Homo sapiens: one gene and its partners. The protein of the gene in region 7 interacts with the protein of the main gene of each other region in a biochemical or structural test. Each region holds a gene or a part of one and is shown on either strand. Other genes may lie near its edges. The genes, in order: RUNDC1, AXIN1, GMDS, LNPEP, HNRNPM, PLCH2 and TNKS.

Region 1 (4,149 bases), on a different chromosome or scaffold from region 7:
TCGGCCTCCCAAAGTGCTGGGATTACAGGCGTGAGCTACCGGGCCCGGCCAGCTGGTTATGAGTTTTAAAGCCTCTCTCCACACCCTTACCCCAGATTCTTTTGCAAAATTTGGCTGCACAGAGTAATCAGGAGTTGTGTTATGGTAACTGGCTGTGGAGAATGGCATGTCTTAATTCCTGGGAGGCTATCTTGGCTGAGATAGATTGTCTCTACCCTAACTAGACCTTTGGGGGAAAAAAGGCAGTCTTAACAAAAAGCCTCATTGTATTAATATCCTATTTCCAATGAGGGACAGATAGTTTCTTAAAGAAAACACCCATTTGACAAATTGCCTAGGATGAAATAATTATTCTTACTTTTGAATCTATCGTATGAATTGTGTATTTCATTTGGATTATTGGAAACATCTTATATTTTATTGGTCATTACTGGCTCGAGCAGATTCTTAATGTGCCCTGAGTTTCCCTTTGCCTGCATAATAGACCCAATTATTTTCTTGCCTTAGAGTGAGCAGGAAAAGCAAGAGCGTCTGGAAACCCAAAGGGAGAAGCAGAAAGAACTGATACTGCAGCTCAAGACCCAGCTAGATGACCTGGAAACGTTTGCCTATCAAGAGGGCAGTTATGACTCGCTGCCACAGTCCGTGGTGTTGGAAAGACAGCGGGTGAGCAGACCCCAGAGGAACCTCCACCACTGCCCGAGGTTAACTTGTCCCTTCCAGCATTCACAGGGCATCCTCTCTCAGCTCAGTTCTCCTTTGGCCTTACTGAGAATCCCTCTGCTGGCCCAAATCAAAGGGAAATTTTACTGCTATGAGGAACCTTTCTTTGCTCACACATGGAAAACACAGATTCCAAAGTTTTGTAATACGATAATTGAGCTATTTCTTTTTGGTGATTGTAATTAATAATAGAAATAAGAATATAACAATAATTTCTTCATTTGATCACTTAAAAAATTCTACTTGGGCCCATCATACAATGTAATCTAGCTTTTTTGTTTTGTTTTATTTTGTTTTTGAGGTGGAGTTTTGCTCTTGTTGCCCAGGCTGGAGTGCAATGGCACAATCTCAGCTCAACACAGCCTCTGCCTCCTGGGTTCAAGCAATTCTCCTGCCTCAGCCTCCCAAGTAACTGGGATTATAGGCAGGCGCCACCATGCTGGGCTAATTTTGTATTTTCAGGAGAGATGGGGTTTCTCCATGTTGGTCAGGCTGGTCTCGAACTCCCAACCTCAGGTGATCTGCCCACCTTGGCCTCCCAAAGTGCTGGGATTACAGGCGTGAGCCACCGCACCTGGCCGTAATCTAGCTTTTTCCTACTACTCACTACCTTTTGATAAACATGCCAGGAATCCAGACTGACTTTAATACTGTATTTATTTAGGTAAGACCTGGGTAGACAGGTAAATCTCTTGGTAGAGATACAGTTACAACCTCCCCTGCATGTTTCTCTACCCCTGTGCTGTGGCTGTTTTTCTGGCTGGGCTGGAGTTTACGATATCAGATTTTTTTTTTTTTTGAGACAAAGTCTCAGTTTGTCACCCAGGCTGGAGTGCAGTGGCATGATCTTGGCTCACTGCAACCTCCGCCTCCAGGGTTCAAGCAATTCTCCTGCCTCAGCCTCCCGAGTAGTTGAGATTACAGGCATCCACCACCATGGCCAGCTAATTTTTGTATTTTTAGTACAGATGGGATTTCACCATGTTGGCCAGGCTGGTCTTGAGCTCCTGACCTCAAATGATCCACCCGCCTTGGCCTCCCGAAGTGCTGGGGTTACAGATGTGAGCCACCGCACCCAGCCTATTATCAGAATTTTAAATTGTTCCTAATAATGTCACTAGGATATTTTGGCTATAATGCACCTTGATATTTTATAGAGATTTTTCTTTAGTTGCCTACAGTAGGGCAAGAAGGGATAAGAAGGATTAGAAATTAAGAAAAATCAGGCCAGTTGCAGTGGCTCGTGCCTGTAATCCCAATTCTTTGGGAGGCTGAGGTGGGAGGATCTCTTGAGGCCAGAAGTTTGAGGCCAGCCTGAGCAACATAACGAGACCCTGTCTCTACAAAAAATTTAAAAATTAACTAGGTGGTAGCGTGTGTCTATAGTCCCAGCTATGGGGGAGACCGAGGCAGAAGGATTGCTTGAGCACAGGAGTTTGAGGTTACAGTGAGCTACGCTCACATTACTGGACCCTAGCCTGGGTGACTGAGCAAGACCCTGTCTCTTAAAAATCAGTATATATTCTCCTTGAAGCCTTTAGAGCAACTAAATATAAGGCTTGTTGGATCATCAGCCACTTTGGATTTTTCATACTGTTGTTTTCCTGAGTGAAATCTGACTAGCCTGGTAGAAATTTACTGTGAGTGGGAGGATCCATTTTTATCAGAGAACTGAGGGTTCTTTTTACTTTAAAAGTAGAGAGTCTATGTCCTCACCTTGATCAATCAGCAGTTAAGTCATTTACTTTCACAAATTTAGAGGTCTGTTTTTTATTTCCATTTAAGGACAGAAGACATTTTTAGATTCTCCTTCCTAACCCTCTCCCTAAAAATTCCAAAGGGTGTGCTCATTGCTTGTGATCTTGGTAGGTGATCATAGATGAGTTAATAAAGAAACTGGACATGAATCTGAATGAGGACATCAGTTCCCTGTCCACTGAAGAGCTTCGTCAGCGTGTAGATGCAGCAGTGGCTCAGATCGTCAACCCAGCCCGAGTCAAAGAACAGTTGGTTGAGCAACTGAAAACTCAGATCCGAGACCTTGAGATGTTTATCAACTTCATCCAAGGTTAGAGGAGGGGATGGGATGAGAAGGGTGGACAGGTGTCATAATAATTATACTTATTCTAAGTACTAGTAAAAAGGTTCTAATTCTGGTTTTTTGTTCTTTTTTGGGCGGTGGGGACAGTGTCTCTCTCTGTTCCCCTGGCTGGAGTGCAGTGGCACAATCTTGGCTTACTGCAACCGCCGCCTCCCAGATGGAAGCAATTCTTCCGCCTCAGCCTCCTGAGTAGCTCGGATTACAGGCTCCCACCACCCCACCCAGCTAATTTTTGTATTTTTAGTAGAGATGGTGTTTCAGCATGTTGGCCAGGCTGGTCTCGTACTCCTGACCTCAAGTGATCCGCCTGCCTCAGCCTCCCAAAGTACCAGGACTACAGGCATGAGCCACCATGCCCAGCCAAAAGGTGCCAATTCTTGATGTACTATTTAAGAGGCTTGATGGCTTAGTAGGGGAGGCAGCATTGGCAGAGTAGAAAGTGCATGGGTTTCAAAATCAGATAGTTAAAATCTCCACTCTCATACTCATTGGTTTTATGTCCTTGAGCATGTTACTAACTCTTCAGTCTCTCTTGTCATCCATAAAATGATGATTCATGGTTCATTCACTTAGCAAATATTTATTGAGCCAACTACTGTATGCCAGTCCTCATTTTACACAATTAAATAGGACAAGAGTTTGTGAAATTCTTGTTTCTAATAGGCACCATTAAGTATTATTTTTCCTTTAAAGATCTGCCATAAAGGGCTAAATAAGTGTCTCTTCTATAATTTCTGATTCCAGATGAAGTGGGAAGCCCCTTGCAGACAGGTGGTGGACACTGTGAGTGCAAGGCCGGTGGGAAGACAGGAAATGGCTGCAGCAGAACAGGCAGCAGCAGAACGCCTCCAGGAAACAGCAAAAGTAAGTGCAGTTTCCAGAACAGGCAAATCTCTAGAGACAGAAAGTAGATGAGTGGTTGCCTAGGGCTTGGGTGTGTTGAGGAGAAGAGGGGAATGAGAAATGCTGATGGTATGGATTTGCTTTTGGGAAGGATGAAATATTCTAAAATTGATTGCAGTGACAGTTATACAATTCTGAATATACTAAAAACCACTGAATTAAACACCTTAAATGGGTGAATCATATGGTATGTGAATTATATCTCAATACAGCTATTATTAACCAGAAAAAGGAAGTCCAGCTACATCCTGGGTGGCTCTTGCCTTCATGTGAGACCCAGCATGTGGCTCAGACTGATCTCAGCCTGTGATTTGTTGAGTGTAGCTCTGTGCCATCATGGCCTCTCACTGATGAGCCACTGTCTTTTCTAAGCAGCAAAGGCAGAGGATGTGAAGAAAGTCCGGGAGACGGGGCTGCACCTG
Region 2 (4,149 bases), on a different chromosome or scaffold from region 7:
GCTGCACACACTGAGACTGTGCGGAGGCCAGGGGTGGCAAAGCAGGCCCCACGAGGCTGGCTGCGTGCGGGGTGCTCACCCGTGGCCGGTCCTGCGGTGCCTGCTGATCTCCTTTTCCCCCTCAATGATCCACTGCATGATTTTCTGGTTCTTCTCCGCATCCTCCGAGGCACCTGGCACCTCGGTGCTGGCGCTCTTCCCCGACTCAGCCTTCTTGGCATTTCTTTTGCACGCCACGCCCACCTTCCCACTGCAAGGGCAAGAGCTGCGAGTCGCCCTGGCCTCCGGTGGCCGAGGCTGTGCCCCTTCCTCGTCTGCGAGGCCCCCTCCTGGCATCTGTAAGGCTCCCGTGGTGCAGCCGCCGCCCGCTGTCCCCTGCCCGCTTGTCCCCCACCCGCTGTCCCCCGCCAGCTTGTCCCCCACCCGCTGTCCCCTGCCCGCTGTCCTGGTGCTGTCTGGGGGTTGGTTTCCTCTCTAAACACACAGGCAGTCACTGCTCACCCCCTGAAGACTGAGGGCCAGAGCGGGAGCCAGGGTCGGGCTGTGTCCCCTAACCTTCATCTCCCACCTGAGGTCACGGCGTGGACTCCCCTGACCCAGGGCCCAGTCCACTCCCTCCAGCAGAGGGGCCTCCTGCCTGTTGCTGGCGGTCCTGGGTTTCCTGAGTTTTATGAGGAGGTTCTGGCCTTCTGCAGGGACACAGCCTCACCCCAAGCCCCCTCCTCACTGACAGGCGCACGCTCACCTGTGGGCGAGGCCATCACTGGCGTTGGGGGCAGCGCCAACACTCTCTGAGTAGCCTCGGGACCTTGCCCCATGGCTGTGTGGTTCCAGGCCCCAGGCGAAGCTGCTCTGGGCCCTGCGGGTGGCCTCGGCCTCCACCTGCTCCTTGGGCCGGGCTGTGCTGTGGTGGACGTGGTGGTGGACGTGTCGGTGGTGGTGCAGGCCGGCCGCGTCCAGCTTCGCCCCTGACTTGGGTACGTGCTTCCCGTGCCCCGAGGCGGCACCCCCCAGTGCCACTGGCATCTTGGCCACGTGCCCACTGTCCGGGGAGCGATGGCCAGGCCCAGGCGACTGGCGGCCAGGTGTCCTCAGCACACGCTGTACGTGCTCGTCCAGGATGCTCTCAGGGTTCTCCTCGTGTGCATCCCGGAGCCCGGCACAGCCCATGTCCACACAGCGGGGCGGGAAGTGGTGCCAAGCGGGGGCGGGAGGCAGCTTGTGACACGGCCCTGGGGGCCCTGACGATGGATCGCCGTCCTCACCTTCCTCCTCCTGTGTGGGGACAAGCAGCACCATCACCTCTCAGCACCAGCTGCACACTTGGGGAAAACAAAAAGCATCAGGCCTGACCCAGCAGCCCCAGCAGATGCCGTCCCAGCCCAGGGTGGCCGGGGGCCCCTCGCCACCGGTCCTGTCCCTGAGGATGGAGAGGCAGGACGGGGCATAGACAGAAGGAGCGGAGACAGCAAGGCCTCAAGGAATGCAGCGTATGTATCGGCTGTGGGCAGAGCTCTGCACAGATTTAGTTTAGTTTTATTCTTTTTTTGAGACAAGTTCTTGCTCTGTTGCCCAGGCTGGAGAACAGTGGTGTGATCTCAGCTCACTGCAGCCTCCGCCTCCTAGGCTCAAGCGATCCTCCCACCTCAGCCTCCAGAATAGCGGAGACCACAGCCGTGTGCCACCACGCCCAGCTAATTTTTTTGTACTTTGGGGACAGATGCGATTCTCACCATATTGGCCAGGCTGGTCTCGAATGCCTGAGCTCAAGCAATCTGCCTGCCTTGGCCTGTATATATATATATTTTTTGAGACAGAGTCTTGCTCTGTTACCCAGGCTGGAGTGCAATGGTGCCATCTCGGCTCCCTGCAACCTCTGCCTCCTGGGTTCAAGTGATTCTCCTCCTTCAGCCTCCCAAGTAGCTGAGACTACAGGTGTGCGCCACCACACCCAGCTAATTTTTGTATTTTTAGTAGAGACAGGATTTCACTATGTTGGCCAGGCTGGTCTCGAACTCCTGACCTCATGATCCACCCACCTCGGCCTCCCAAAGTGTTGGGATGACAGGCATGAGCCGCCGCGCCCGGCCTCCCATTATATTTTAAGGAGAACCTTGTACAGAACGGCTCTTGGGTTATGTACATGTTGTGATGCTGCCTGACGAGCTTCCACATGAAGCCGGTGGAGTTTCACTTGATTCTCCAAGTTAACAGGTGCTGAAGCTTATCTGTCAGAGCAAACATTTGATCACTTTAATTCCAAGTTGCATCTCATACTTATTTTCTCATCTTATTGGACTGACAAACTAAAACAGTATTGAGTAAATCTGGTGTCAATACAAAAGAAAGAGAGGGAACTAAGTTACCATGTATCTATGTATGTATTTATTTATTTAGAGTCAGAGTCGCTCTGTCAGCCAGGCTGGAGTGCAGTGGCACGATCTTGGCTCACTGCAACCTCCACCTCCCGGGCTCAAGCAATCCTCCTGCCTCAGCCTACCGAGTAGCTGGGATTATAGGAGTGTGCCACCATGCCTGCCTAATTTTTTTGTATTTTTAGTAGAGACGGGGTTTCACCATGTTGGCCAGGCTGGTCTCAAACTCCTAACCTCAGGTAATCCACCACCCTCGGCCTCCCAAAGTGCTGGGATTACAGGAGTGAGCCACCACAACCGGCCTATTTATTTTCATTTTTTTGAGACAGAGTCTCGCTCTGTCACCCAGGCTGGAGTGCAGTGGCACGATCTCGGCTCACTGCAACCTCCGTCTCCCGGGTTCACACCATTCTCCTGCCTCAGCCTGCCCAGTAGCTGGGACTACAGGTGCCCGCCACCACGCCCGGCTAATTTTTTATATTTTTAGTAGAGATGGAGTTTCACCGTGTTAGCCAGGATGGTCTCGATCTCCCGACCTCGTGATCTGCCCACCTCGGCCTCCCAAAGTGCTGGGATTACAAGTGTGAGCCACCGTGCCCGGCCTATTTTTATTTATTTAATTTTTTTTTGAGACGGAGTTTCACTCTTGTGTCCCAGGCTGTAGTGCAATCTCCGCCTCCCGGGTTCAAGTAATTCTCCTGCCTCAGCCTCCCGGGTAGCTGGGATTACAGGCACCCACCACCATGCCCAGCTAAATTTTTTGTATTTTTAGTAGAGACTGGGTTTCACCCTGTTTGCCAGGCTGGTCTCGAACTCCTGACCTCAGGTGATCCACCCACCTTGGCCTCCCAAAGTGCTAGGATTACAGGTGTGAGCCACCACACCTAATCGCAGTGGTGCCATCACAGCTCAAGGCAGCCTCAACCTCCAGGGGTCAAGCGATCCTCCTGCTTCAGCCTGCCAAGTAGCTGGGACTACAGGTGCATGCCACCATGTCCCATTAATTTTTTCTTTTTCTTTTTTTTTTGTAGAGATGGGGAATCTCACTATGTTGTCCAACCTGCTCTTAAATTCCTGGCCTCAAGTGATCCTTCTGTCTTGGCCTCTCAAAGTGTTGGGATTACAGATGTGAGCCACTGTGCCCCACCTACCTCTATATTTTAATATAAACAAACCTCCCAACGTTTAGCACCCAACTCTCACACCTGCAAAAGTATCCAAATGCAACTGGAACAGGCGTGCCCCAGAGCTGGTGTGGGCTTGGCTGCGGGCACCTGCACTGGGGCTGAGGGTGAAATATGGCACTAAAGAGGACAGACGGATGCTGGAGCAGAGCCGGGGGACAGGTGGGTGGTGGGCATCCCCTGGCGGATGCAGCTATGCTGCCTCCCTTTCCTTGGTTTTGTAGGACTAAAGGGCCCGGGCACTCTGGGGAGAAATCTTAACCGAGGGTCTTCCTAGGGACTAAAAGTGTTTGGAGTTTTGATGCCGTTCACTGCCTTGGCCGAGCTCCACATCGGCAGGAATTCTATCATGGGGCTGTGAAATGTTACAGATTAACTTAACCACTCGGCTAATGGTTTTTGTTTTCTTCTTTGTGCTTTAATTTCCCAAATTTCACAATGAAAATAGGTTATTTAAAAAATCTGGAGTTCACGCCTGTAATCCCAGCACTTTGGGAGGCCGAGGCGGGTGGATCACAAGGTCGGGAGATCGAGACCATCCTGGCTAACATGGTGAAACCCCGTCTCTACTAAAAATACAAAAAAATTAG
Region 3 (4,149 bases), on a different chromosome or scaffold from region 7:
ATTACATGCTGACTTATTATGTGTACAATAGAGAAATTATGCAATTATCTTTATATTTAAGCAGTGCAGTAATTTCAGTTTTAGACATAAAGCCAATTGGATTTTTTTTTTTTTTTTTTGAGACAGATCTTACTCTGTTGCCTAGGCTGGAGTGCAATGGTGGTATGATCTCACTCACTGCAACATCCGTGTCCTGGGTTCAAGTGATTCTTGTGCCTCAGCCTCCTGAGTAGCTGGGATTACAGGCGTGCGCTACCACGCCCAACTAATTTTTGTATTTTTAGTAGAGTTGGGGTTTTGCCATGTTGGCCAGGCTGGTCTTGAACTCTTGGCCTCAAGTCATCCGCCCACCTTGGCCTCCCAAAGTGCTGGGATTATAGGCGTGAGCCACCGTGCCCGGCCAGGATAGTTTTTTTTTTAAATGAAACCAATGAACTATTAATTTTACTGAATTTGAAATTAAGTTTGTAAACTAAGAAGAAATTCATATGAGTTGTATGTTGTCAGAATTTGTAAGGATAGAGTGAAAACTTGGAGCTGTCCATCTTTGTAGGACATATCAAATGAATGAAGTGACTTTTTGGTGAGGAACGATTTTTTTTTTAACTGGTACATAATAATTGTACATATTTATGGGGTATGTGTGATATTTTGGTACATGTTTGTAAAGTTCAAATCAGGGAAATTAGGATAGAGGAAGGAGTTTTAAATTCTTGGGTTTTTCTTGGGTAGAAAAATGGAGTTAATTATGCCCACATCACAAATTGATGTGTGGATTACAAATGATGATTATATTATAATAAGGCCTATCACTGTTCCTGGCATGTAGTGTTTATGAAGTGATAGTTCTTATTTATTATGAATAAGTTCTCACAGTGGGAAGGAATGAGAGAAGGATGGAGAAGTGCTTGGGAATGCAGTTAGGGGTATGTAGGATGAATGAGAATAGTAAAAGTATGAGGATAATGAGATCAAGGATGCAAATGCATTTTGGTGACAGGTTGGATGGTAATAGTATGGCCAGAAATGCAACCACTGGGAAGGAAAATCAGTTTTCTGGGGGAAGACAGTGAATTATTTTGTTCCTCTGGAGTTTGAAGTGCAGTGGTGCAATCATAGCTCGCTGCAGCTTTGAACTCCTGGGCTCAGGTGATCCTCCTGCTTCAGCCTCCCTGGTAGCTGCCACCAAGCCTGACTGATTTTTTTACTATTTTTTTTTTTTTTTTGTAGAGACAGGATCTCACCAGCTGACCAGGCTAGTCTTGAACTCCTGGCCTCAAGCAATCCTCTGGTCTTGGCCTCCCAAGTGCTGATAATACAGGTGTGAGCCACTGCACCTGGCCTCTTTGTCTTAAAAATGACTTAAAAGTGCTCAGAGGTGGCTGCTGTAGAGTGGGCAAGTCCTAAAGGTGGCCATGCTGCTGTGCTGTACCTTTAGCCAGTCTTCTTCCCTGTCTCCCAGAACTTTCTGTAGCTCTTACTTAGAAGGCATGAAAATTAACACTTTCCCTTTAGTTTCATGATTGATGTTAACCAGGCTATTCTTAGTATATTTCAGTTTTCTCCTTTCTTTCTCCTTTATTTATTTGTTGATTATTTGCATTTCCTAATGTTAAAGATACTTCCAGGCGGGGCGAGGTGGCTCATGCCTGTAATCCCAACACTTTGGGAGGCCAAGGTGGGTAGATCACCTGAGGCCAGGAGTTCAAGACTACCCTGGCCAACGTGGAGAAACCCCATCTCTACTAAAAATACAAAAATTAGCCTGGCATGGTGGTGGGCGCCTGGAATCTCAAGTACTCGGGAGGCTGAGGCAGGAGAATCGCTTGAACCCGGGAGGCAGAGCTTGCAGTGAGCCGAGATCATACCACTGTACTCCAGCCTGGGTGACAGAGCGAGACTTTGTCTCAAAAAAAAAAAAAAAAAAAAAGGTACTTCCAAACTTCCAATTTACAATTTCTCATGCTTTTCTTCCTTTCTTGAGGAATTTTGGGAATCTCACACTTCCAGAAGTAAGGTGCTCAGTTGCATTAACCATTCCTGTATAAGCTTAATACATAGGAAATGAGTGAGTAAAACATGTCTGAAAGGTAATCCTATAGGATAGAAAGCTGATTATCAGTAATGTTCTTGGCAGTGGGGCACCAATGTGCCAAACCTAGTCTTTGGCAAGCTAGTAAGCAATTTTCCTGCCAAAATCTTGTGACTTACCATAAGTAGTAACCCAATTGTTTATATAAATTTACTCATTGAAATGACTCAGCTTTCCAGGATATTATTTTGGCATTTACTTATGTAGAATTGAGTTACATAGACTTGAGGTTAGATGATTTTATATGCAGTGACGTTCTTGGCTGAAGGGTATTTACTTCATTTGTTTCAGACTGTTCATACTGTGCCTTTTAAACAATTTACCACATGTGATTCTAGGGGAATCCTTTCTCAGATCTTCATACTAAGTTCTTTTAAACTTAAGAGTGAAAAAATAAAGGTATTTACTAGGGATTTATAGAAAGTATTTCTTTATACTGACTAATTACACTTGGGAAAATGAACCACCAAAGCTTGGTTGTATTATATATATATTATGCTTGAGCATTTGGTTTGATTGTAATGTGAAATGAATTGCTTGATCATGTTTAACAAAAATATGTTCCTTAATGCTGAGTGAAAAAGCCTCTAATTGGCACTTTTAGAAATCTTTTAAAATCAAAACATGATTTTTCTATGTTTCTTAGAATGGTACTGTATTTCTATCACTTTTCACAAAAGTTAGATTTTTAGTATTGCTTTATTCGAACTATATTTTTACATCGGTTCTTTAAAAATGATGAATTGGAATTTTGCAAGTATATGCAGACACTAGTAGTATTTTTTGGTGATCAATATTGATAAACGTGTTTATTGTAGTTTACAGTGGAATCCTTCAAAATGGAAGCTTTGTTGCAAGAGACCTGCAGGACAAAATGCAAGTGTGGCATATATGCTTGTTGGAGTAAACCCAGTCAAGGAGAAAGACAGCAGAAACCCTGTTTGTCAAGAATTGTGGGAGGCCTGAGATTTTACCTTACTTGCAGGCTAACAAGTTAGCTTCTTAAAATTCCACGGATGATGGCAGAAGACACAGCACTCCTGGGTCAGCAGGCAGTATGAACTTCATGTTTGTGACAGCTCTGTTTGTATAGTATTTTCTTGCCCCTCAAAGACCATGTGGGTAACACGGTGGCTGGGTGGGTCTAGGTGGATGTTGCCCATGCAGTGGGTATGCACCACAGTTGAGAAAATCTGAGATTGGGAAACCCCAATTTTTTATAAGGGAACTAATAATCCTGCCCAGCCTTTGCTTTGAGGGAGACATTATTTTTATTATTCTGCATAGCAAACAAATCTTCCATCTGCTCCAGAGAGAAACACTATTGCTATCTTAAAATGCTATCTACAGATGTCCTGTACAGGAAAGATAGTAGCCAATAAAAGCTGTCAGTGCAATCTGCTCATAAGACATGCAGAAACTGGAGAGACCCATAGAGAACTGGCTCCCAACACCATTTGTTTGCCTTGTTCCTGAAACTTACCAGATTGGCAACACAGACCAGTTTTCCTCTTTTTTTTTTTTTCTTATTTTTTTTATTTTTTTTTATTTTCCAGAAAGGGTCTTGCTCAGGCTGGAGTGCAGCAGTGCAAACACAGATCACTGGAGCCTCAACCTCCTGGGCTCAAGCGATCCTTTGGCCTCAGCCTCCCGAGAAGCTGGGATCACAGATGTGCACCACTATGCCTGGCTAATTTTTGTATTTTTTTTTTTTGTTAAGATGGGGTCTTGCCGTGCTGCTCAGGCTGGTTTCAAACTCCTTGGCTCAAGCAATTCTACCATCTCAACCTCTCCAAGTGCTGGTATTGCAGGTGTCAGCCACTGTGCCTGGCCCCAGTTTTCCTCTTATGTCTCCATGCAGACTATGGGGAGCTCCAGCTTTGCATTTGTTTTCTTTTTGCTTGAAGAACAAAATGATAAGACCTGGATTTGGGTGCTTAGTATGGAATGAATTAGGCATTGTCCCTGGGGGAGGCATTTTATATTTCCCTGTATGTATAGGCATGGGAAGTATAGTAGGTTTGATTTTGTTGGAATGTTTAGTAAGTTTAATCTGA
Region 4 (4,149 bases), on a different chromosome or scaffold from region 7:
TGTTAAGCATATTCACATTATTGTGTACTATATTTTCAGAACTTTTACATCTTGCAAAACTGAAACTCTGTACCCATTGAATAATTCCTCACTCCCTCTCCCCACCAGCCCCTGGTAACCACTATTCTACTTCCTGTTTTTGTGAGGTTGACTACACTGTATATCTCATATAAGTAAAGTCATATAGAATTTGCTTTTTTGTGACTGGCTCATTTCATTTACCATAACGTCTTCAAGGTTCTTCCATGTTGTAGCATGCATTAAAATTTCTTTCTTTCTTTCTTTTCTTTTTTTTGGAGATGGAGTCTTGCTCTGTCACCCAGGCTGGAGTGCAGTGGCGCGATCTCAGCTCATTGCAACCTCCACTTCTCGGGTTCCATTGATTCTCCTGCCCCAGTATCCGGAGTAGCTGGGATTACAGGCATCCGCCACCACACCTGGCTAATTTTTGTATATTTAGTAGAGACGGGGTTTCACCATGTTAGCCAGGCTGGTCTTGAACTCCTGACCTCAGAAAATCTGCCCACCTAGGCCTCCCAAAGTGCTGGGATTATAGGCATGAGCCACCATACCTGGCTAAAATTTCTTTCTTTTTAAAGGCTGAATAATTTTCCATTGTATGTATATACCACATTTTGTTTATCCATTCATTCCTGGATAGACCTTTGTGCTGCTTGTACCTTTTAGCTATTGTGAATAATAATGCCATGAACATTGGTGTGCAAATATCTCCTAGAGACCCTGCTTTCAATTCTTTTGGAAATACACCTGGAAGTAGTATTGCTGGATCATATGGTAATTCTAATTTTAATTTTTTGAGGAACTGCCATATTGTTTTCTACAGCAGCTGCACCATCATTCCAATTTCTCTACATCCTTGCCAACACTTGCCATTTTCTGGGTTTTTGATAGCAGCCATCCTAATGGGTGTGAGGTGATAAACAAGTCTCTTAATTTAGAAATAAAACATAGCAGGTAGAGTTAGCAGTTAACAGAAAAGCTTTTGGGGGTAATTAGTTCTCTCCAGCTCCTTACCGTGCATTATGGAGAGAAGATTCAAGCATCAGATGAAGAGTTGGGGTGGAGGATTTGGATAACGTTTTGAGGTCTTTCCCAGCTCTGAGATCTTAATAAAGGCAGTAGACTGTGTTTTCTCCCTGCACCCCATTTACTGCTATAGTTCTACCATGAAACTTATCACACTGAATTGTAATGCATATAGTTATTGCTCTATACTTCGTAGTAGCCTGTGAGTTCTCAGAGGACAGAGGCTCTCATTCCTTTTCCGCTCCCTAGTGTCCAGCCAGTCGCCTGCCTGGTTCTTTGTGAGTACTCTGTGAATATTAAATTGAACTGATGTATCCATAGACACACTACTAGGAAGATAGCAGTCACTGAATTAAACTTTTTCTCAACCCTAAATTGTGTACTCAAACTTGTTATTATTACCAACCCTCACACCAGAAACTCCACCACAGCCAACTCTTCGCCTTTGTATTCAGAATATTTTCTTGTTATTCTCATGTTTGACCACCTCTCTTACAGCCTACCTACTGATGTCATGACAACTGTGTTCAAAGTTGGAGCAAAAACTGACAAAGGCTGGTCATTCCTTTTGGGCAAATACATTTCTATAGGCTCTGAAGCAGAGAAGAACAAAATACTAGAAGCACTTGCCAGCTCAGAGGATGTGCGGAAGCTTTACTGGTATGAAATCACCGAGGAATATGATATACAGAAACCAAAAGAATACAAACACTGTGCTCTTGGTCAGGAGCTCATTTTTGAGGGGATCTCTTTTCCCCACTTCTGTTACAGGCCAGGCCTAAGTTGGACAGTGTGGTGAGGAGACTACAGGTGCTGGGCTTTATCTTTATGGACAAGCAGAAAATCCTTTGCCCAAAAGGGATTACAAGATGTCAGGAGTCACAGCCCCCTCCTACTCCTTGCTCAAAAAGTCTTCCTCCCCTTGGAATGTTGTCTTATACACCACAATTGGTACTCCATAGTTTAGGACCAAGGCATTGCTTTGTGCAAGCTGTCATTTTAAAAATGTAGGCATTTCAGAAAAAAAAAATCACATATTAAACCTTCTAGGTTCTACGTTCATATGAATTTATTTGTCAGACTTTTCCTTTTTAATATGTAGTGATGAAGGCCCAGAAGTAGGAGTGTCATATGGATGAAGGTAGGGCAGTAAGTAGGGCCTCCTGACAGGAAGAACAGGCAGTGGTGGGGTAGAGGAGCTCTACATAGCCAAGAGGAATATAGAGGTATCTGCTGTAGAGAGCACAGGTGTTAGAAGTCGCACTGAGGATAGAAGGAGGCTTCTGGGTCTCATTACTTCTGTTGTATGATTTTGCTCAGATAAATCTTAATAGTGTCCCAGAGATGTCCTCAGTACCTGTCCAGACCCACTTACCAAAAGATACGCTGTAAATAGTCATTTTCTTTAAAGTATTAGCCAGCCTCTGACTTAAGCAAATAGAGAAAAATCACTGTTTTTAAACTATGCTAGTAATACACTAAGAATGCCCATGATAAAGAATTTAAACAGTACCTAAGAATATAGAGTAAAATATGAAAGTATTTCTCATGATCCTTCACTTCCATTCTCGTTTTCTCTGTTAACAACAGTGTCAGTCCTGGTCTTTGTATTCATCTGTGGGAATGGATATTTGTACATATGTACGTACATACATACACACATACCTACATATTTAACTGCATTTTAAAAACCATATTAGGTTTATACCATACCCAGTGTTTTGTGACCATCTTTTTAGTGAATGATCAGTCTATGAGATTTTCCATGTCACTTCATGAAGCCTGCTTTATATATAAAAAAAAACTAAAGTGTTTTATGGGTTCATAATATTCTGTAGTATGGCCCTATCATAATTTATTTAATCCATCACGTTTTGTTGGGCTTTTGTTTTTTTCTCTCCTAAAAATACTGCCACAGTCTTGGAGTGGGGCGTGGTTTCTCACTATAAACAGATAGTATAGCATAGTAGATGAGAACTGCTTTTGTTCAGATGTCGGGCTTTGGTATTTATTACTGTGTGACTGTGGGTCAATTAGATAACCTCAGTTTCTTCAACTATAAAATTGAGTTAGGTAGTATTAATAAATACCTACTTTATAGCATTGTTGTGTCAAGGACTTAGAACATTATTTAGTACATAGTGTCAGTAAATGTTTGCTACGAACATTAATAAGAGTATATTCTGAAATGTATCCTAATTTTCAAATAATTCAAATGACCTAGTTTTTTTTAAGAATAGTAATATAATTAACCTGCCCATTCAAATCAAATAAGGTTTTTACCAGAAAAAAATACCCACCTCCCGAATTGTAATAAATTCTACCAGAACTTATTTCCTAAATGTTTTTACTATTTAAAAACTATTTATTGTCATGTGACAATATAGGTAAATGCCTATTTTATTGGTGAGTTCTTTCTTCATTTAAAAAAAATGACATTTTCAATCTATAGATCAACCGTAGACTAATGCAACAGTTATTTCTCAATTTGCTACACAGCTTTAATTAGGAAACCATACTAATTTTAATTTAAGTTCAGTCATCACTTCTTCATGAATAATAATTTTGGAGGCTAAATCTGCTTTGCTCTTCAGGTTAATGAAAAGTAGCCTGAATGGAGATAACTTCCGAACACAGAAGCTGTCTTTTATCATTAGAACAGTGGGTCGACATTTTCCTGGACACTTACTGGCATGGGATTTTGTCAAAGAGAACTGGAATAAGCTTGTACAGAAGTAAGTTTCTCAGAGAATTATTAACTTTTAGTATTCTCAAGTTGTGCATTTGAAAAAAGCTCCCAGTGTTTTGGCTCACAGAAGTTAGGATTTGCTGTGAGAGGAAAAATACTTCCATGACAGTTTAACTGAAACATCCGGAAATTTTCACATTTGTTAACATAATTCCATAGCATGAATCATTTAACAGTAGCATTCCATCTAAGTTCTAATTAAGCCTAGCCTTGCTTGGCACCAGGTTACTTAGCTCAGCGTGGCTACAGACTATTTCATAGCAACCATTTAGCTATGCATATTGAAAAATACCTCTGTATGGCCGGGCGCGGTGGCTCACACCTTTAATCCCAGCACTTTGGGAGGCCGAGAT
Region 5 (4,149 bases), on a different chromosome or scaffold from region 7:
CTTTCCAAACAACCTTTCAGTTTCTAAGTCTTGAGAATATCATTTACTGTGCAAGCATGGTTTGCGTTGTACTGGGTCAGTTAAACGTAACACCTTTTGTGCTTGTTTTAGGATCCTGATGGTGAACATGCCAGGAGAGCAATGCAAAAGGTGATGGCTACGACTGGTGGGATGGGTATGGGACCAGGTGGCCCAGGAATGATTACTATCCCACCCAGTATCCTAAATAATCCCAACATCCCAAATGAGATTATCCATGCATTACAGGCTGGAAGACTTGGAAGCACAGTATTTGTAGCAAATGTAAGTAAACAGAACCATCGTCTAAAGTAGAAAATCAGAACTTTATGAAATGACCTTGTCAATATGTTATAAAAGTAATTCTCACATTTGAGAAGAAAAATGTAAAGAAGGGTTTTGTTCTTGATTTCTTTAAAAATCAGCCTTATAGGCGGGCTTTGTCTGCATTCCTAAGTCACAGGCTTGACCGTGGTCTCGTTGGGGCTGTGATTCCTGAGTTTCGCAGGTGTTTCCGCAAGCAGTAACCGAGTCTGCATTCTCCGTTGGTTTATTTTATGCAGTTTTGGTGCAGAGTAAGACTGTACGAGCAGAAGTGCACTGACACCTTCCTCTTGTTGTGTCTGGGGTGAATGATAATACCTCCACCATCTGCAAGGGGAAATATTTTTAGAATAAAGTAGGTTGGGTGGGGTGGGGAGTGGTAAAGCTTATCAGGGAAACAATTTTTTAAAAATGTTCAGAAAATGAGTATTAATTTGAAGTATGAGGTGACTTAAGTTTCTGAGAAAAGAGACAATATATTTACTATAGGTACAGTTTATTTACAGTGAAGGCCAGGCTTTATAATCCTATTTTAAAATTTCCATTGCAGTTGATTAGTTTTTGTGACATTATTTCCTAATACTTTTTTCCAACCAAAGCATGTATCATTCATGTAGTAAAAATGTTGTGTTTCTTAAGATGTTTACATTGAGGTTTTTACCCCGTTCTCTCTCGATTAGCTGGATTATAAAGTTGGCTGGAAGAAACTGAAGGAAGTATTTAGTATGGCTGGTGTGGTGGTCCGAGCAGACATTCTTGAAGATAAAGATGGAAAAAGTCGTGGAATAGGCACTGTTACTTTTGAACAGTCCATTGAAGCTGTGCAAGCTATATGTATCCTTCTGCAGGAATTCAACTTATGAACAGTTTGACCTAAATTGCTGTGTTAGTAATGTAGGTTTGTGTGAGGAAGAGGTGACTGTGTGTATTCATGTTTTTTATGTGACTAGGGGGAGTGCATTACTGTGGAATTAAGAGGTTCTCTGGGCCGGACCGGTCACGGTGGCTCACGCCTGTAATCCCAGCACTTCGGGAGGCCAAGGCGGGCGGATCACTTGAGGTCAGTTCGAGACCAGCCTGGCCAACATGGTGAAACCCCGGCTCTACTAAAAAATGCAAAAATTAGCTGGGCGCAGTGGTGGGTGCCTGTAATCCCAGCTACTCGGGAGGCTGAGGCACAAGAATCGCTTGAACCCGGGAGGTGGAGGTTGCAGTGAGCCGAGATTGCGCCACTGCACACCACCAGCCTGGGTGATAGAGTGAGACTCAGTCTCAAAAAAAAAAAAAAAAAAAAAAAAGGTTCTCTGGGGGTGGAATTGATTCAATACAGTGTGGATAGAGGGGATGGTTACAACATGGGCATATGCCCATGAGTCTTTCTACTGTTTTCTTTTCAGAAGAGTCTAGGTTTGAAGGAGGAAGTCCAAAGAATGTGCTACTAGAGAGAAAGTGGGGTTGTTGTTTCATGTGTAATACATCCTTATAGGACCTCACTCTTTCCAGTGAGTAGACATCATTTTGGAAGAGGCCACTTCTCCTTGACCCTAGGCTTAGCCTAGAGTTTTTAATCCCTTGGAGAGTACCCCACAGGAGCACATTCATACAACTCAGACAAGACCGTCACTGCATGTCTTACCCAGAAAACATGGTCCTTCAGTTTAGATAGTGGTAGATGCCTGGCCCATTGGTCACATTCAGAGAACCTTGATGCCACTGCTTAAGAGGATGGTTTGGTGAAATTGTAAGGTTACGAATGAAGCTTCACACCTAAGGAATAAGCGGAAGTTGTCTTGTCCTCCCCGCCAGCTTTATTTATTGTTCCTTTTATGTTTATTGTTGAAAGTATAATGAAGAATTGAAATTGCTCATAAATTCATCACTTAGAGGGACTGGTAGCAGTTGGAGTATTTTTCTTTCTTTTTGTATTTCTCTTGTGCACATTTTTAGAATTGCAAGAAATAGCCTTAATTGTAATACCAGCTATGTTCAATGGCCAGCTGCTATTTGATAGACCAATGCACGTCAAGATGGTAAGTCAGTAGGATCTTTCTCTGTGATATACTCAAGTCTAGCAAAAACATGGAATTAATAAGAGTGTACATATAGCCACTATGAAATATTTGTGGATTAGTCTAAGTTAAATAGGGTGCAGTATGTTGAGCAAAATTGTGAGAGAAATAACATTTTGCTGGTCAGGCGTGGTGGTTCACGCCTGTAATCCCAGCACTTTGGGAGTCTGAGGCAGGCGGATCATGAGGTCAGCAGTTCGACACCAGCCTGACCAACGTGGTGGAACTCCTCCGTCTCTACTAAAAATACAAAAATTAGCCGGGCGTGGTGGCACGCGCCTGTAGTCCAGCTACTCGGGAGGCTGAGGCAGGAGAATCACTTGAACGTGGGAGGCAGAGGCTGCAGTGAGCCGAGATCGTGCCACTGCACTCCAGCCTGGGCAACAGAGTGAGACTCTGTCTCAAGAAAAAAAAAGAAGAAAAAAAAACATTTTGCTCATGGCAGCTCTTGACTGCATTAGATATTTTTCCTTTTGCACAGTTGACTGTTCATGGCGCATTCAGGAAGTCACCTGGGTATCCTGGTTGAGCAAGTGATCCGTTTCAAAGAATGGTTATATATGTGGGGTTCCAGTTTTTCAAAGTATTACAGTATAATGTTTGGTTAGCATCAAATCTGTTGTGAACATAATTAAGTCATTGATTCAGACAGCTTTTAAAGGTCTGTTGGAGCACTTCAATCTTAATAAACATTTGCTCTGCCGTAACTGTGCCAAAGATAATAATTACTACAGGCATGACTGGAACATGCTGAGGGCAGTCTAGTTGGGACTCAAATTCAGGAAAAAGATAAACTATAAAGCAATTTTTTCATTACTCTAAATAGAGTAGGTAAGTTTTTTGAATAGATGATAGATTCACGTGACTCAAAAGTCAAAAGGCATGAAAAGGTAGTGTGAAGATAGTGTGAGTCCTACTTGGACTTCTTGCCCAGGTCCCCATCATCCCCCACAATAATATCCATGTGTCTTTTCCCTTGACATAAAATAGGAAGCATGCTCCGCATGCCTTTCTACCCTTGCGTATTACTCCATGGCGTGGATAATGTGTTTAGCTGGTCCTCTCTTGATGGGGGGCCATTTCAGTCTTTTGCTGTTGCAAACACTGCTGCACTGGATACTGAGATTTGTTTGTTTTCTTTCTCTTTCAGGATGAGAGGGCCTTACCAAAAGGAGATTTCTTCCCTCCTGAGCGTCCACAACAACTTCCCCGTAAGTGTTTCAGTGATTAGGGCTGAGAGTTTGAATTGGAGTTACACTAATAAACAGAAAATTACCATATGGTTTCACTTGAACCTGTGCCAGGTTAGCCCTCAGTTCTCTTGGCCAGTTCTTTTCTATAGATTTTTCAGGGTGAGAAATGAGCAGAGATTCACAACTTGAGGATATTGTTAGGATTACCTCATGGTAATCCTAGGATTGTAATACCAGGATGTAGAGGATGTGGTTAGGCATTTTGAAAGTGTCCTGGGGAAGGAAGAATCAGAACCTGTGAAGGGAATGAAAACCAGGCTGCACTCTAATTCAGAAGATACTGGTTAGTCCCATGTGGGCTAGCAGTGCACACTAGACATCTGCACAGAAATTCGCACGCAGATGTTTGCAGCAGGATGAAAGACACATGCTGCAGTGTGGATGAACCTCGATTTCATCTACAGGAAATGCTCCGCATAGATAAATGCATAAAGGCAGAAAGTAGATTAGTGGTTGCCTGAGGCCGGGAAGGAGTAAGTAGGGAC
Region 6 (4,910 bases), on a different chromosome or scaffold from region 7:
GACCCCCAGCTCCGCGCTCAGGTGCATCGAGGCTCTTGTGACCTCAGGTCCCCCTGGGGGCTCCGCAGCGCGACTCTCTCCACGGGCCCAAAGTGGCTACACGCTTGGCAACTGCTGGGCTGAGGCCTTGCCTGGCATGCCTGGGTCCTGACCATCAGCAAAGCCATCAGAAACCCTGGCTGCGCCCTGATCCCAGCCCTTGAGGACTGCCATGTCTCTCCCCAAACCGTGGGACCCTACCCGTTCCCTGTGTGCCTCAACTCTCCCCACCCACCCCCTGCACAGAGCCTCCATCTCGGGTGGCCCCTGCTCCCTCCAGCAGCCATGCCCAGTGGCTGCCTGAGCCACTGTTTGCACCCATACCCATCCATCAGCATACCTCTGTGGGGGTCGTTTCTGTTTATGGGGAGCTGTGACCTCCCCAGCTAGATGGACTATGCTGTGCCCCTCCTTCCAGCCCAGCACTCAGCACAGGGCTGGGCACAGTGCTACTCGGTCCTCACTGAGTCCCAGGGAGCTCTGCCAGGCGGGCAGGGGGCCTGGATCCCTCCTACCCCACAGCCCGAGGTCACTGCAGATCCCCAAGGCCACTGAGCCCAGAGGTGTCCAGGCCTAGGGTCTCGCTGCTCCTCAGCCATCAGTGGCTGCCCTGGGAGGGTCCCTACCGTCGTGTCCCCCCAGGGACTCTGATTTGTCCCCACCCCAGGGCTCCCACTCACTCTTGGCCTTCTCGTTCTTGCGTGAGGGCCTCCAGCGGATGCAGGAGCGGTGCTCGTCCAGGTAGTAGAAGCGGACCAGGCCCTTGGAGCCGCCACGCAGCTTCACCATCTGCATCCCCTCTTGCATGGCACCCATGCACCGCTCCACTGGACACGGGAGAGACACGGCTGTCAGCGGAGGCACAGCCACTCCTCGCAGGAGAGACACGGCCGTCAGCGGAGGCACGGCCACTCCTCACGGGAGAAACACGGCCGTCAGCGGAGGCACGGCCACTCCTCACCTCGCCCGGCCCCGCCCACACCGCCCTGCCAGTGACAGGGCAAAGGCCAGAGCCCAGGGCCACCTCCACCCCAGGTGCCGGCTTGCCTGGGTCACACAGCTCAGCTGGGCCCTGCCACTCCTCCCCAGATGGTCCTGGGAACTGAGGGCCCTGCTCCCCACCCTGCTCGGCCACCTGCCACTCCCACCACCTCCTGGACCAGTCCTAGCAGCCCTGGTAACCGGCGCTGGGCCTGGGGCCCCGAGAGCTACCACTCAGACGGAGCCAGCACAGAACTCAACAATGGGAAGGCCGGGCACGAGGCAAGACAGATGAGGTGGCTGGGCTGGCTGTCTGGGGCCATAGTGCAGTGGAGGCCCCTTGTCAGGGGCGGGGTGGGCCTAGCAGGCAGCAACCCCATGCCCCTGCCCCCGCCCCTGGCCACAGGTGGCTCCTGGGAGCGGTCGAATTCCTGAGTGCCTGTGCCCCTGCCTGGGGCATCTCCAGGAAAGCCCCCACCCCTCATGTGCAACAAGCGCCACGAATGGTGCCATGAATGTCTGCGTCGCACGCCCTGCACTGCAGTATGGACTTGGGAGGCTGTGGTGCCGGATCCGAGCTTCACAACCCCTCCCCTCCCCTCCCCCAGGCTGCCTGCCTCGCTCCTTCTCTCCCCTCCTCTCTCCATTCAGCCTCCTGCTGTAGCTTGTCCCAGGAGAGGGGGCTGCAGGGTCCAGGGAGTCCAGGCCAGAGTCAGCTGTCCCAGCCCAGGAACAGACTGGTCTCACCCCCTCGGTTCCTGCACACCTGCTCACAGAAAGCCCGGGTCCCAGAGGTACCATCTGCTAAAGCACAGAGACGTTAATCCCCACCCCAGGTCTGCACGCTGAGGGACCCTGGCGGGGGCGTTGTAGAGGACCAAGGGCAGTACTGGCCGGGCCTTCTTGGGGAAGCTACTACGTGATCACGAGCAGAGGGGAATTGAAGGGATGGAAGCCATGGCATGGGGGGCTGGGCTCTCCGGGGCACATGGGAGGTGAAGACGCAGGTATGGCTGCAGGGATTTAGGAGAGGGGTGAGGCAGGACACAGGGGCAGGGGGCGGGCAGAGGCCTGCAACAGGGCAGCCTGGACAGGACCCTGTCTGCCGCTGGAACAGAGAGCTGGCAGGCCAGCCCGGACCGGGGCCCTCCACAGGCCACCACAAGACACACACTCCACCCTCCCAGCCATACCCAGCCAGTCTCCTCTGCAGAGTCTCCTAACGGCAAAGGCCCTCATGTCCGGCACCAGGATGCCAGCCCAGCCGCCTGGGCTGCAAGCACCACTGACCCCCAGAGCACAAGGCACCCCTTCAATGAGAGCATTGGAGCCACCTGAGATCCCCCCTCGCCCCCTTGGGTTCAGCCCCCAGGCCCTGCAGGTGCCTGGGAGACCGAGGTGTGCTGAGCACGCCTCTGAGCGGCTGAGGGGCAGGGCCAGCCGACGCTGCTGGACCCACATGATCCCTAGAGCACCCGGGGGACAGGGGAGGCGAGTGCAGGATGGGATGGAGGCCCAGGCTTCCCCCACCTCCAGGAACAGCCCCCACCCACCAGTCACCTGGCCAGGGCCAGCACTCAGCCCAGGCCACTCGCCTGCCCCTTCTTACCCAGGGGGCCGAGCTGCCACTCTGAAGACAGCACCACACTCCCTCCAACCCAGAGGAGTACCTCCGCCAGCCAGGCCACCGTTCCCTTGGTCCGGCTGTCGGGGGAGGGCCATGGACCAGACATGGCCTGACGACAGCCGGGCCTGCTTCACGGAGGCCACAGAGGCCCACCGGCCTTCGGGCAGCGGAGGTCAGGCAGTGGCAGCGCTGGCGACAGGACCTCCGTGGGGCCTTCTCTCCTCTGCCTCTTCCTCCTCCTCCTCAGGGCCCTCCGAAGCCCCCACAGGGCTGTGCCCAGGCCCGGCTGGCATTGGCCTGACCGTCACCTGCTGTCCTGATGGCCCCCAGGCCAGCCTATCCACCCTCCAGGGCCACCAAGGAATCCCTGACGCAGCCGCCTCCCAAGGCTGGGGGAGCAAAGGACCTCAGCCCCGCCCAGCCCCAGGCCCAATCCCTGTGCTAATCCCAGCTCCAGCCCAGCTGGTGGAGGATTTAGGCCGAGGGAACTCCCAGCTGGGGATGGGAGGGCACTGGGGAGGCAACAGAGTTTCCCAAGGCCCCAGGCCACCAGACCCAGGTCAGGGCTGCGGGACAAGAGCAGGACCAACGGGAGGGCCCTCCTGGGACCCAGAGAACGCAACCGGAAGGCCTGCAGGGTACTGTCCTCCGAGGACCCTGTGTGGGGTGGGCCTCCCCGCTGTGCGCCCACCACAGATGCCGAGGCTGGGCCTGGAGTGGTCCCTGCCCTCACCCCGCATCCCTACTTATGAGGACCTCTGAGTGGATCCCCAAAGTCCAGAGGCAGGTGGCCCAGAGCAGGGGCAGAAGCTCACCTCATCCCCGCAGCGCCCAGCCCCTGTGGCTGGAGAGGGGAGCCGAGCCGGATCCCTTACAGCGACAACTCCCAGCCCAGGCCCAGGATGTGGGTCCCTGAGCCTGGGTTGGGCTCTCCATGTCTCCCTCATGCAGCTGCAGCCCCAGCCTGACCTTTCTCCACGGTCACCGAGCTGTGGCGGAGGAGGTGGCCCCATGCCCAGGGCACGTTTGTCCCCACATTCTGCCCTGCAGGGATGACAGCCATCTGACCTGGACAGGGGCCTCGCCCAAGGAGGACCCACCCCACCGTCTCAGCTCCCACTGAGGAAAGGACTCCAGGTCCCACTGCCACCAGGACCACACAGCCCACCCTGTGTACTGGCCCCGCACTACAGGACAGCACAGGCTCTCCCATCCCCAAGTCCAGGCCGGGACACCAGGGGCAGCTGTGGGAATGGGAGGTGGGCAGACCCCGGCTGAACACCAGCCACCTGTGTCCTGGCCATGCCCATGCTTCGTGACCACACTGGGGAGAACCCCGCCCTTCTTCCCACCCACTGCCCAGGCTCTACTGGCTCCAGCAACAAGGACTGGAAGGTTCCGGGCAGCTGCTCGCCTCCCCCCATACCAGGGGAGGAGTTTGGCCTGCAGAGCCCAGGACAGGGAGGTGCCAGGGCTGGGCATCCTGGCAGAGCCCCGGGGCCAAGGTCAGGCGTGGGAGGTGGCAGTCCCTGAGGAGATGGCCATGCGTCTCCAGCTGACCACTGACAACCAGGGCCACACCCAGCCAGATCAGATGCAGTCAGCACAGAGCCAACCCAGGCCCCCACCAGGGGCCCCGTCACAGGCTCTGCTGCTCTCGGCGGAAGCAGGTCAGCAGGCGTTTCTGGGCTCTGCCGTGGAATTAGATTAGGGAGCCATGAGCTGCAGGGAGAGGAGAGGGGCTGGAGTCCCGGGCGTCCTCAGGAAGACAGGGCCTCGGGGAAGGCCACCGTGTAAGGGGCAGCGCAGGGGCCAGGAGGTGGCCTGAGGGCCTGGAGACAGACCAGACGGCCATAGCCCTGGCCCAGGGCCCCTGCCCACCTCATACTGGGCTGCTGCGGGCTTCCACTCTGACCCAGGGGGTCCAGTTCTCCTTCCTGCACCTCAGAGGCCTCCTGGCCTGGGACACACCTGCTGTTCCCTCACCCTGGGCCTGGCCCCAGCTGGGGGTGCTCCCGTCTCTCACCCATCCCTCCTTGAAGCTCCCCAAGGCTGGGCCTCTGCTCCCTCCCTCCCTCCCTTGAGCTCTCAGCCACTAGCTGATCCCCCATCAGCTGGGGTTAGGGCTTGGAGGCCGCCATCTGCCTGGGCAGGGGTTCTGAGAGGAGCCACACATAGAGTGCCTGGCCCCAGCCCCACAACGTGGGTCCCAGGCTCCTGCACCCCAGGCCCCCTGACCTCCTCAGCAGCAGAGCTGGAATCC
Region 7 (4,149 bases):
AGTTTTATTCAGTTTTGTTGGGTTATCTTTTATTATTAAGTTTAAGAGTACTTTATATATTCTGCATACTAGTGCTTTGTGGGATAAATGTGCTAATATTTTCTCCCAGGCTATGAATTACTGATTAATTTTCTTAATGAGAGTCATTTGAATAGAAATTTTAAATTTAATTTATATATTTATTTTATGGTTATTGCTTTCTCTGACTCATCACCTGGATAAGAACTTTTATCTGGCCCCAAGTCATAGAAGTTCTCATACATATCCTATGAAAATCTTTATGATTTTAGCTACATTTTATCAGATGTGACTATATCCACTTCAGTATTCTTATGCTGTGTGTGGCATTTTTCTATTCATTCACTTTCAATCAATCTGCCTTTATATTTAAAGTGTGTCTATTATAGACAGTATATATGTGAGTGTTGCTTTTTAAGACATTCTGACAATCTGTGTCTTTTAATCTACCTCATTAACTAATATTGATACTTCCAATTCAAACTCAGAACTATAGGGTTTTTACTTACCTCTTCTATGTTGCATCTGGCCATCATTTCTTCCATACCTAAACTTTTATTTTTCAAGGACCTGCTAAGAGCTGTTAATGTTGAAGGTCTGATGAGAATGGGAATTTCCTTCCCTTAGCCTTTTTTTTTTCTTTCTAGATGGGCAAAGGATTTTTTTTTTCTCTTCCATTAAAGACCAGATATTCTATTACAGTATGTCTTGGTGTTCGTTTCTCTAGATAGATTTTCTCAGGTATGTGGTATGGCTTTTCTTTACATAGTTTCAGATCTTTTATTTCAGAAAAGTTTCTCAAATTATACTTTTTATTATTCGTTCTTTTCTTTTTATGTATATTGAAACTTTGCCTCTTCTAAATTTGTTACTTGCTCCATTTCTTTAATACGATATATGTAAAATTTACCATTTTAACCATTTTAAGTGTACAGTTTTGTGGCATTAAGTTCATTCGCCATGTTATGCAGCCATCACCATTGTCCATTTCCAGAACATTTTTTGTCATCTTAAATAAGCTCTTGTACCCATTAAACTATGTCTATCTGCCCCCAAACCCCTGATAACTGTCACTTTCTTTTGAATCCTATTAAAAAATATATATCTTCTTTTTTTATTAACTTTTTTTCTCCTTTCATCTTCTATTTTTCTTAAGGCAGGAGTTGGAAACTTTCTGTAAATGGCCAGATAGTAAATATTTTAGGCTTTGTAGCCATATGGTCCCTCTCATAGCTACTCAGTTTTGCTTTTATACTGTGAAAGTTTCCATAGACTATATGTAAATGAATGAGTGTGATTGTGTTCCAGTAAAATTTTATTTATGAGAATAGGTGATGGGCCAGATTTGGTGTATGGGTTGTAGTTTGCTGACCTCTGTTATAAGGCATTATATGTGGCATTTTTTCCATTTTGTGTTCTTTCTTTTGTAGTCCTTTCTTGAAATTATTTTTTCTTTTATTTTGAATTATTTTCTGAACTCTCTCCTTTTATTTCTAACTCAGGCACATGCTATACGTTCATATCTTGTATCATTCTCGTATTCTCTTTTAGCTAGTGTTAAAATAATTGATTATAATTTTGTCTGCTTTGTGGGCATTTTTTTCTGTTAGGTATTAATTGTCTGCGGGGATGTTATTCTCCAAATTCTTCTTGTAAGAATTTTGTATGTATTTGACCTCAGTTACTTTCGTTGCTCATTTTTACAGAAATTAATTACTAAATAATTTCAAGGATAAAAATAAAGGTCTGAGATAGTTAAGGTAATCCCCCCTGTCCCTTTTTGTTGTGCTACACCTGCAGCTCTGGCCTAGAATAGATCAAGTCTCTCAGTAAGGTCTGCAGGATCATCTTTTACAGTAGTAGCATTTAAATTATGAAACATCATCATTTTATACCTCTGTTTATATAACCTATGAGACATTTTTTCAGGAACCTTAACCGGAGACATTGTGCTAAGGGCATTTTATAGATAAAGTCTCTTCCTGATAGATTACTATTTAGTCTTTTTGGTAAGTGTAGTCCAGTCACCTGTAAAGCATTCCCTACCCCATCAATGAATTGAATAGGTCACAGGCCAGGTGTTCTTTCCTGACGGGAAGTGATTCTTTGACAGTTAACAGGCCAGAGAAATACATTGGGAGGATAGGAGGCATATCATCAAAGGTCGAGTTGTGAGCATAAATATGTTAAAAAAAAAAATCTCAAGCTTAGAATCCAGAAGAAAAGTAATCAAGGAATGTGAATAATTCTGAGAAAATAAATTTTATTGTAATGTTAGGTTTGGTTTTGGAAAGGAATAAACATGAGCTCTGTGATGACATGAGGGAGAAAACACTATAGTAGTTTAGTCTTTAATATTTTTAACAGCCTCCTTTTGTGTCATAGACAAAGAATCTTTGGGTAGCTTACTATAAAATATTGCAGTAGATAAAATTGAAGGCAGTTGCTTCTTACCTTTTTATTTTTCCCCATGTCATTGTCCTTGAAGCTACTTTGGCTTATGTTTATTCTTCTGATAGCTAAGTTTTGGTGTAGCCCTGCTCTTGAGGCACCTAATACCATGCATCATTAATAGATACTTATAGTAAGAATTGAATAGGATTAGTTAAGATAAGATGGGTTGGAGTCTGAGGGCTAGGTGCAGCCTCCCCTTACGGGGCTTAATAAAACCAATGAAACATACACGAGAAAGAAACATTCAGAAATGGACTTTCAGTTTCTTGGTGAATAAAAAGCATTATATCTTCAAGAAAAAATGAGTAGGGTGGGTTTCCTAGGGATTTCTACTAAAGCCTAGGAGCTCAGGATAACCCCGGGGCTCATTAAAAAAAAAAAATCACTTTGATTTCAAGTAATTGAGGAAAGTTTTAGGTGTTTTGTTTTTGTGTGCCCGTTGTTTTTCTTTTAAGGCTTCATCAGATGTCTAAGTTTGCTTTCACCAGAGCGAGTTACTGAGTTCTCTTCTCGAATCTTGTTTTGCCAGTTTGTTCAGGTATCTGTTTATAGAATTAAAGCAGCGTGAGGGTAAACTTTTTTTTAAGCTGTTTTTTGGAGTGTGTCAGCTCCCCATTCAATTTAGACAAGTTATTTATTTATTTATTTATTTTGGTTTTGGAAGAGGGAAAATAACGTGATGTAAAATTTTTTCTCTATCCCTTTTGCCTTTTCAGTAGAACAAACTAAACTGCTGGTAGGTGGCAGATGTTTGGACTTGTTTATTTTTTCTTCTTTGGTATATTTTCTTTTAAAGTGAGGAAGCATTTGGTAGTTAGCAGATGATTTCCATGAACTACAAGTCCAAACTGAACAAAATTTGTTTTAAATTTACTGATTGACTCAAAAAACCTTAAAGCTATAGTCTCTGTGTCATTAGTTCAAAAATAAACTAAACCAGCCAGGCGTGGTGGCTCACGCCTGTAATCCCAGCACTTTGGGAGGGCGGATCACAAGGTCAGGAGATGGAGGCCATCCTGGCTAGCACAGTGAAACCCCGTCTCTACTAAAAATACACACACACAAAATTAGCCTGGCGTGGTGGCGGGCGCCTGTTGTCCCAGCTACTCGGGAGGCTGAGGCAGGAGAATGGCGTGAACCCCGGAGGCAGAGCTTGCAGTGAGCCGAGATCACGCCACTGCACTCCAGCCTGGGTGACAGAGCAAGACTCCGTCTCAAAAAAAATAAAAATAAATAAAAATAAAAATAAACTAAACTCCCTGATGCCTTGTTAAAGTGTGTGTATACACACTTTTTTGTGTCTACATGTATATAACTTATTATATATGTCAAATTATATGTTGACATATATATTATATACATAGTAAGTAGACATTGAAAAGTTCTGATGCCCTCATTCTGATAATACTCATCAACCGTAGAAACCATTTTGACATTCTCATCAGTCATGTTAATAAGATGTGCAGGTCTCCTCTTCCAAATGCTTGGGTTATTCTCATGTTGACTGTGGAAATTTGGTATTTTCAAAAGAAATGACATAGAATTACACTTAGTTAATACATCTTAGCTATTTTTTTCTAATGTCTTGAGGTACCAACTTATGTTTTTCTTCTTTGCAGGAAAATATTCTTATTTGGAAAAAGAAAACTTTTTGGATAAATTTTTGAAACTTTGAGC

What was found.
Region 1: the proteins of TNKS (region 7) and RUNDC1 interact in a test that uses a peptide from one of them, tested with the Homo sapiens proteins (one large-scale study listed by BioGRID and IntAct).
Region 2: the proteins of TNKS (region 7) and AXIN1 form a complex in vitro, tested with the Homo sapiens proteins (2 studies listed by BioGRID).
Region 3: the proteins of TNKS (region 7) and GMDS form a complex in vitro, tested with the Homo sapiens proteins (one study listed by BioGRID).
Region 4: the proteins of TNKS (region 7) and LNPEP form a complex in vitro, tested with the Homo sapiens proteins (one study listed by BioGRID).
Region 5: the proteins of TNKS (region 7) and HNRNPM interact in a test that uses a peptide from one of them, tested with the Homo sapiens proteins (one large-scale study listed by BioGRID and IntAct).
Region 6: the proteins of TNKS (region 7) and PLCH2 interact in a test that uses a peptide from one of them, tested with the Homo sapiens proteins (one large-scale study listed by BioGRID and IntAct).

Annotation. Positions count from the first base shown.
Region 1 is NC_000017.11:42,986,749-42,990,897, forward strand, and holds part of RUNDC1 (RUN domain-containing protein 1), read left to right. Parts: intron 1-507; coding exon 508-666; intron 667-2,592; coding exon 2,593-2,791; intron 2,792-3,568; coding exon 3,569-3,688; intron 3,689-4,099; coding exon of another isoform or gene 4,100-4,102; coding exon 4,103-4,149. UniProt on the Homo sapiens protein: May play a role as p53/TP53 inhibitor and thus may have oncogenic activity.
Region 2 is NC_000016.10:296,977-301,125, forward strand, and holds part of AXIN1 (axin-1), read right to left. Parts: intron 2,229-4,149; coding exon of another isoform or gene 2,208-2,228; exon of another isoform or gene 2,035-2,207; intron 1,323-2,034; coding exon of another isoform or gene 1,299-1,322; exon of another isoform or gene 1,284-1,298; intron 1,276-1,283; coding exon 746-1,275; intron 251-745; coding exon 80-250; intron 1-79. UniProt on the Homo sapiens protein: Component of the beta-catenin destruction complex required for regulating CTNNB1 levels through phosphorylation and ubiquitination, and modulating Wnt-signaling.
Region 3 is NC_000006.12:2,235,300-2,239,448, reverse strand, and holds part of GMDS (GDP-mannose 4,6 dehydratase), read left to right. Parts: intron 1-4,149. UniProt on the Homo sapiens protein: Catalyzes the conversion of GDP-D-mannose to GDP-4-dehydro-6-deoxy-D-mannose.
Region 4 is NC_000005.10:97,022,976-97,027,124, forward strand, and holds part of LNPEP (leucyl-cystinyl aminopeptidase), read left to right. Parts: intron 1-1,545; coding exon 1,546-1,707; intron 1,708-3,641; coding exon 3,642-3,782; intron 3,783-4,149. UniProt on the Homo sapiens protein: Release of an N-terminal amino acid, cleaves before cysteine, leucine as well as other amino acids. Degrades peptide hormones such as oxytocin, vasopressin and angiotensin III, and plays a role in maintaining homeostasis during pregnancy.
Region 5 is NC_000019.10:8,465,213-8,469,361, forward strand, and holds part of HNRNPM (heterogeneous nuclear ribonucleoprotein M), read left to right. Parts: intron 1-111; coding exon 112-303; intron 304-1,022; coding exon 1,023-1,176; exon of another isoform or gene 1,177-1,402; intron 1,403-2,289; exon of another isoform or gene 2,290-2,322; coding exon 2,323-2,372; intron 2,373-3,561; coding exon 3,562-3,622; intron 3,623-4,149. UniProt on the Homo sapiens protein: Pre-mRNA binding protein in vivo, binds avidly to poly(G) and poly(U) RNA homopolymers in vitro. Involved in splicing.
Region 6 is NC_000001.11:2,474,432-2,479,341, reverse strand, and holds the start of PLCH2 (1-phosphatidylinositol 4,5-bisphosphate phosphodiesterase eta-2), read right to left. Parts: upstream 3,054-4,910; 5' UTR 2,754-3,053; coding exon 2,630-2,753; exon of another isoform or gene 1,822-2,629; coding exon of another isoform or gene 1,638-1,821; intron 867-1,637; coding exon 720-866; intron 1-719. UniProt on the Homo sapiens protein: The production of the second messenger molecules diacylglycerol (DAG) and inositol 1,4,5-trisphosphate (IP3) is mediated by activated phosphatidylinositol-specific phospholipase C enzymes. This phospholipase activity is very sensitive to calcium.
Region 7 is NC_000008.11:9,562,169-9,566,317, forward strand, and holds part of TNKS (poly [ADP-ribose] polymerase tankyrase-1), read left to right. Parts: intron 1-4,149.